Linked DNA regions of Homo sapiens. The protein of the gene in region 2 purifies or fractionates together with the protein of the main gene of each other region. This does not show direct contact. Each region holds a gene or a part of one and is shown on either strand. Other genes may lie near its edges.

Evidence for each region.
Region 1: the proteins of RGS20 (region 2) and AARSD1 purify together in Homo sapiens (affinity purification with mass spectrometry, with the first as the bait; 2 studies listed by BioGRID). This does not show direct contact.

The regions. Positions count from the first base shown.
Region 1 is NC_000017.11:42,954,455-42,957,954, reverse strand, and holds part of AARSD1 (alanyl-tRNA editing protein Aarsd1), read left to right. Parts: intron 1-759; coding exon 760-817; intron 818-1,394; coding exon 1,395-1,551; intron 1,552-1,634; coding exon 1,635-1,751; intron 1,752-1,982; coding exon 1,983-2,113; intron 2,114-2,730; coding exon 2,731-2,797; intron 2,798-2,987; coding exon 2,988-3,079; intron 3,080-3,500. Other genes in the region: PTGES3L-AARSD1 protein, read left to right, coding at 760-817, 1,395-1,551, 1,635-1,751, 1,983-2,113, 2,731-2,797, 2,988-3,079. UniProt on the Homo sapiens protein: Functions in trans to edit the amino acid moiety from incorrectly charged tRNA(Ala).
Region 2 is NC_000008.11:53,936,372-53,939,871, reverse strand, and holds part of RGS20 (regulator of G-protein signaling 20), read right to left. Parts: intron 297-3,500; coding exon 148-296; intron 1-147. UniProt on the Homo sapiens protein: Inhibits signal transduction by increasing the GTPase activity of G protein alpha subunits thereby driving them into their inactive GDP-bound form.

The DNA of each region.
Region 1 (3,500 bases), on a different chromosome or scaffold from region 2:
CCTTGATAGTTCCTCCTCTTTCTCCTTTTCTTCCTCCTCCTCTTCCTCTTCTTTCTCCTCATCATCACTCTTGTCAATCAGGGATGCTGCTGTATCTCTTATGTCAAGCCCTGTGCCTTGCATTTGGTAGGTACTCAATAAATACTTGTTGAATGGATGAATGCTGCATATTGGAACTTAAGTTCACTGGGCACAGTGGCTCACACCTGTAATCCCAGCATTTTGGGAGGCCAAGGCAGGTGGATCACTTGAGGTCAAGAGTTCAAGACCAGCTTGGCCAACGTGGTGAAACCCCATCTCTACTAAAAGTAGAAAAATTAGCCGGGCACGGTGATGCACGTCTATAATCCCAGCAACTCAGGAGGCTGAGGCACGAGAATTGCTTGATCCTGGGAGGCGGAGGCTGCAGTGAGCCCCTGCACTCCAGCCTGGGCAACAGAATGAGACTGTCTCAAAAAAAAAAAAAAAAAAAAAAAAAGGAAGTTAAGTTCAAGTCCAGCCCCTTATAAGTTACATTGCCATGGCAAGTTATTTGATCTCTCTAGGCTTCAGTTTCCTCATCTGTGAAATGGTATCATAAGGCCTCTTGCAGAATTCTCATTGTGATTTTCAATAAAGTATCTAAAGTGTATTACCCAGTGCTTAGCAGGTCTTCAACAAGGAGAATTTCTGTGCTTTTATCATTGTAGCTCATATTTTATCATTGTGGGAGTATGTAGGCTTCTCACTTTTCTCCTGTCTCTGGCTCTCTTTGCTTAGGGCAGCATCTCATCACGGCAGTTGCTGACCATCTATTTAAGCTGAAGACAACATCATGGTGAGTGGGAGGCATAAGACTAACTGTAGGCAGGCCCATCCCAGCACTGGGAGGGAGGCGGAGGTGGGAGAATTGCTTGAGCCGGGGAGATTAAGGCTGTGGTGAGCTGTGATTGCCACCAAATGGCAGCATGGGTGACAGCGAGCTTGTCTTAAAAAAAAAAAAAAAAAAGGCCAGGCGCAGTGGCTCACGCTTGTAATCCCAGCACTTTGGGAGGCCGAGGCGGGCGGATCACGAGGTCAGGAGATCGAGACCATCCTGGCTAACACGGTGAAACCCCGTCTCTACTAAAAATACAAAAAATTAGCCGGGCGTGGTGGCGGGCGCCTGTAGTCCCAGCTACTCGGGAGGCTGAGGCAGGTGAATGGCGTGAACCCGGGAGGCGGAGCTTGCAGTGAGCCGAGATCGCGCCACTGCACTCCAGCCTGGGCGACAGAGCGAGACTCCGTCTCAAAAAAAAAAAAAAAAAAAAAAAAAGTGGTGAGAGGGTATGCTTGTTCCAGTTTTTAGAGGAAAAGCTTTCAGCTTTTTCTTGTTCAGTAAGATATGTTATCTGTGGCCACTGTACTTCTGACAGGGAGTTAGGGAGATTTCGGAGTGCGATTGAGCTGGACACCCCCTCTATGACTGCAGAGCAAGTAGCTGCCATTGAGCAGAGCGTCAATGAAAAAATCAGAGATCGGCTGCCTGTGAATGTCCGAGAACTGAGCCTGGATGATCCTGAGGTGGAGCAGGTAAGGGTAGAGCCAGAGGGATGGTTTCTGCGGAATGATTCCTCATCAGATTCAGACAGTCCCTCCCCTCTCCTTGAGTCCAGGTGAGTGGCCGGGGTTTGCCTGATGATCATGCTGGGCCCATTCGGGTTGTTAACATCGAGGGCGTTGATTCCAACATGTGCTGTGGGACCCATGTGAGCAATCTCAGTGACCTTCAGGTAAGTGAGGAACGGCTGTGGAGTGGCTGAGAAGAGGGATTGGGGGAGAGGGGATCACATGGGGCTGGGAGTGGGAGAGGGGGATAATCGAGGAGTCCTAAGTGAAATCTCCCCTTCACTGTTTCAGAGCTGAGGAACAGATAGGTTTCTCCTGCCTTCAGGTTCTAGGATCCGCTGTGGTTTATGCATGTGCACACGTGTGTGTGTGTGTTACCCCCTTGCCTCATGTAGGTCATTAAGATTCTGGGCACTGAGAAGGGGAAAAAGAACAGAACCAACCTGATATTTCTGTCTGGGAACCGGGTGCTGAAGTGGATGGAGAGAAGTCATGGAACTGAAAAAGCACTGACTGCTCTGCTTAAGTATGCCTGTTTCAGTACCTTCGATTACCTCCCATTTCTGAGATTTTCGACATAATCTCTTACCTCTGGGAGATAAGATGCAATCGTAAATGATAAAGTGCGGCCAGGCGTGGTGGCCCACATCTGTAATCCCAGCACTTTGGGAGGCCGAGGTGGGCGGATCACGAGGTCAGGAGATCAAGACCTTCCTGGCTAACACCGTGAAACCCCGTCTCTACTAAAAATACAAAAAGAACTTAGCCAGGCATGGTGGTGGGCGCCTGTAGTCCCAGCTACTCGAGAGGCTGAGGCAGGAGAATGGCGTGAACCCGGGAGGTGGAGCTTGCAGTGAGCCAAGATCGTTCCACTGCACTCCAGCCTGGGCGATAGAGCAAGACTCTGTCTCAAAAAAAAAAAAAAAAAAAAGATCAAGTGCTTTGGATAGTAAATCAGAACCACGAAAAGTGGTTAATTCCTTTGTATGTTTTCTCCCAGTTGCCTAAGAGACCTCCTCAGAATATCTCCTGGTCCCTGACTGCAGGGAGGCACCATAGCAAGAAGGAAATTATTGATTTATGTCCCCAACATCAGAAACGACTGGGAAGCTGCGCAGGTCTCCTCTGACCTTTCTCTTTCAGGTGTGGAGCAGAGGATCATGTGGAAGCAGTGAAAAAGCTCCAGAACTCCACCAAGATCCTGCAGAAGGTGATTTATTCCATGGAGGGTAGAGAGGGCATGGGCCCTGCCTAGGATAGGCTCTGCAGACTTGGTCTTCTGCCTAAACAGATGTGTAGTTTGTCAAAGTGGGAGTGAGGGGAGAATGAGGTGGAGGGAAGCTGATACTCTCTATTGTTATCCTTTCCATTTATCTACTGAGTTACCATATCCATTTCAGAATAACCTGAATCTGCTCAGAGACCTGGCTGTGCACATTGCCCATAGCCTCAGGAACAGTCCAGACTGGGGAGGTGTGGTCATATTACACAGGTGAGAAATTAGGAGCTGGACACAAGGAAGGGGAACTGTGTTGGGCTTAGGGCTCAGTGTCTTCTCTATATGCAATGTACAGTGGGAGGTGGATTGCTCACTGGTATTCTCAAGGTTGAGTAGATCCTAAGAAATATGTTACTGGCCGGGCGCGGTGGCTCACGCCTGTAATCCCAGCACTTTGGGAGGCTGAGGCGGGTGGATCACAAGGTCAGGAGTTCGAAACCAGCCTGGCCAGCATGGTGAAACCCCTTCTCTACTAAAAGTACAAAAATTAGCTAGGCATGGTAGTACGCGCCTGTAGTCCCAGCTACTCAGGAGGCTGAGGCAGGAGAATCACTTGAACCCGGGAGGCAGAGGTTGTGGTGAGTGGAGATCACGCCACAGCACTCCGGCCTGGACCAACAGAGTGAGACCCCAT
Region 2 (3,500 bases):
TGTGTGTCAGGCATATAGTAGTTGCTTAAAAAACACTTATTGAATTAACCATAAGCTGCCACCACTTTCAGGGGTGCCACGTCCCAGTCAGGAGCACATTACACTTCCCAGTCAGGAGCACATTCATTAAAAAGCCCCAAACCTTACCACGAGCAGCTACAACAGCAGCACCAGCAGAAGCAGCATGCGTTGGACCCGCGACTCCCCGCTCCGGGCTGGCCTGGGGCGGCGCCTGGTGTGTCCTGGGCGGCGGGCATCTGCCGCTTCCGCATCTCCATCCGCTCTGATCCCATCTGCTGCAAGAGGGAGAGGAACAAAGCGGGCGGGAGGGGGTTCCAGCGTTATGAAGGCGTAAGCCCAGGGAGTCAGCTGTTTGGATCATTGAAAAGATACAGTGCGACTACATTCAGGTCATTTTTGCTACTTCTCGTAAAATTTAGTGCTTAGAATCTTAGGATCAATTAATGTATCCAACATGTAACGCTTATCCTCTGCCAAGCATTGAGATACATTCCAGGGATAAACTAGCAGATGGAAGGCCCCTCCTTAGGCGCTCACAGTTCAGTAAAGGAGACAGAGACACACGCACTGAAGACTCTGCAGTCAGTGCTACGCAGGGCCGTTCCCAGCTCCAGGCATCCCTGTGGCCTGAACCAAAGGGGGACAGGGATGGTGGCAGCTTCATGACGCTGCCTGTGAGGCCAACGCTCAGATATGGGAGGAGGTCAACATGGGAAGGGCGGCCCAGCTAATACAGCAGGCTGACGAGAGGTCAGAAGAGGAGGTGAGTCCTGGATGCCAGAGTGGCCTGAGTCACATCTTTCCTAGCTGCGTCACCTTGCAGAAGTGATTGAAATTGGGACGTGGAAGCATTCAGAACCCCGCCTGGTACAGAGCAATTGCTCAATTATTCCCAGGAAGCCAGGCAGGAGAGCCAGACTGTGGCCTGCCCGGACCTGTCTTTCCGTACCAGGGATGGTCACCCTCACCTACTTCAATGGAGGCCAAGCCATACGACACAAAAGATCTGTGCCCTTCAGCCTCTGCCCTGTTGTTGGGGACTCCAAGAATGTGAAAGAAGAGAGATATAAAAGCAGCATGAGAAGCAAGAAATTGCTAAGCCCATTTTACGTTGGATACTATCACTTGATGGAGCTAATTGCAAGCTAATATCAAGGACACATTAAAGAACCATAAATAAGACTTTAGAATTAATTTCTGGATCTATTATTCTATTTCAACATTAGATTTGTCTGTTCCTATTGATTATTACCTAATTCTCTATACTGCTGGACTTTGTTCTAATTATTTTATTTATTTTTATTTTTTAAATTATACTTTAAGTTCTGGGACACATGTGCAAAACCTGAAGGTTTGTTACATAGGTACATAGGTATACACGTGCCATAGTGGTTTGCTGCACCCATCAATCCGTCATCTACATTAAGTATTTCTCCTAATGCTATCCCTCCCTTAGTCCCCCATCCACTGACAGGCCCCAGTGTGTGATGTTCCTCTCCCTGTGTCCATGTGTTTTCATTGTTTAATTCCCACTTATGAGCGAGAACATTCAGTTTTTGGTTTTCTGTTCTTGTGTTAGTTTGCTGAGAATGACGGTTTCCGGCTTCATCCATGTCCCTGCAAAGGACATGAACTCATCCTGTTTAATGGCTGCATAGAATTCCATGGTGTATATGTGCCACATTTTCTTTATCCAGTCTATCATTGATGGGCATTTGGGTTGGTTCAAGTCTTTGCTACTGTGAACAGTGCCTCAATAAACATATGTGTACATGTGTCTTTATAGTAGAATGATTTCTAATCCTTTGGGTATATACCCAGTAATGGGATTGCTGGGCCAAATGGTATTTCTGGTTCTAGATCCTTGAGGAATCATCACACTGTCTCCCACAATGATTGAACTAATTTACACTCCCACTAACAGTGTAAAAGCATTCCTATTTCTCCACATCCTCTCCAGCATCTGTTGTTACCTAACTTTTTAATCATTGCCATTCTAACTGGCATGAGACGGTATCTCATTGTGGTTTTGATTTGCATTTCTCTAACGACCAGTGATGATGAGCTTTTTTTCATGTGTCTTTTGGCTGCATAAATGTTTTCTTTTGAGAAGTGTCTATTTGTATCCTTTGCCCACTTTTTGATGGGGTTGTTTGTTTTTTTCTTGTAAATTTGTTTAACTTCCTTGTAGATTCTGGATATTAGCCCTTTGTCAGATGAGTAGGTTGCAAAAATTTTCTCCCATTCTGTAGGTTGCCTGTTCACTCTGATGATAGTTTCTTTTGCTGTGCAGAAGTTCTTTAGTTTAATTAGATCCCATTTGTCAATTTTTGCTTTTATTACCATTGCTTTTGGTGTTTTAGTCATGAAGTCTTTGCTCATGCCTATGTCCTGAATGGTATTGCCTGGGTTTTCTTCTAGGGTTTTTATGGTTTTAGGTCTTATGTCTAAGTCTTTAATCCATCTTGATTTAACTTTTGTATAAGGTGTAAGGAAGGGGTCCAATTTCAGTTTTCTTTTTTTATTTTATTTTTATGTTTATTTATTTATTTATTTATTATTATACTTTAAGTTCTAGGGTACATGTGCACAACGTGCAGGTTTGTTACATATGTATACATGTGCCATGTTGGTATGCTTCACCCGTTAACTCATCATTTACATTAGGTATATCTCCTAATGCTATCCTTCCCCTCTCCCCCCAACTCCACGACAGGCCCTGGTGTGTGATGTTCCCCACCCTGTGTCCAAGTGTTTTCATTGTTCAATTCCCACCTATGAGTGAGAACCCAATTTCAGTTTTCTGCATATGGCTAGCCAGTTTTCCCAACACCATTTATTAAATAGGGAATCCTTTCCCCATGGCTTGTTTTTGTCAGGTTTGTCAAAGATCAGATGGTTGTAGATGTGTGGTGTTATTTCTGAGGCCTCTGTTCTGTTCCATTGGTCTATATATCTGTTTTGGTACCAGTACCATGCTGTTTTGGTTACTACAACATTGTAGTATAGTTTAAAGTCAGGTAGCGTGATGCCTCCAGCTTTGTTCTTTTTGCTTGGGATTGTCTTGGCTATACAAACTCTTTTTTGGTTCCATATGAAATTTAAAGTAGTTTTTTCCTGTGAAGAAAGTCAGTGGTAGCTTGATGGGGACGGCATTGAATCTATCAATTACTTTGGGCAGTATGGCCATTTTCAGGATATTGATTCTTCCTATCCATGAGCATGGAATGTTTTTCCATTTGTTTGTGTCCTCCCTTATTTCCTTGAGCAGTGGTTTGTAGTTCTCCTTGAAGAGGTCCTTCACATCCCTTGTAAGTTGTATTTCTAGGTATTTTATTCTCTTTGAAGCAATTGTGAATCGGAGTTCACTCATGATTTGGCTCTCTTTTTGTCTGTTCTTGGTGTATAGGAATGCTTGTGATTTTTGCACATTGATTTTGTATCCTGAGACTTTGCTGAAGTTGCTTATCAGCTTAAGG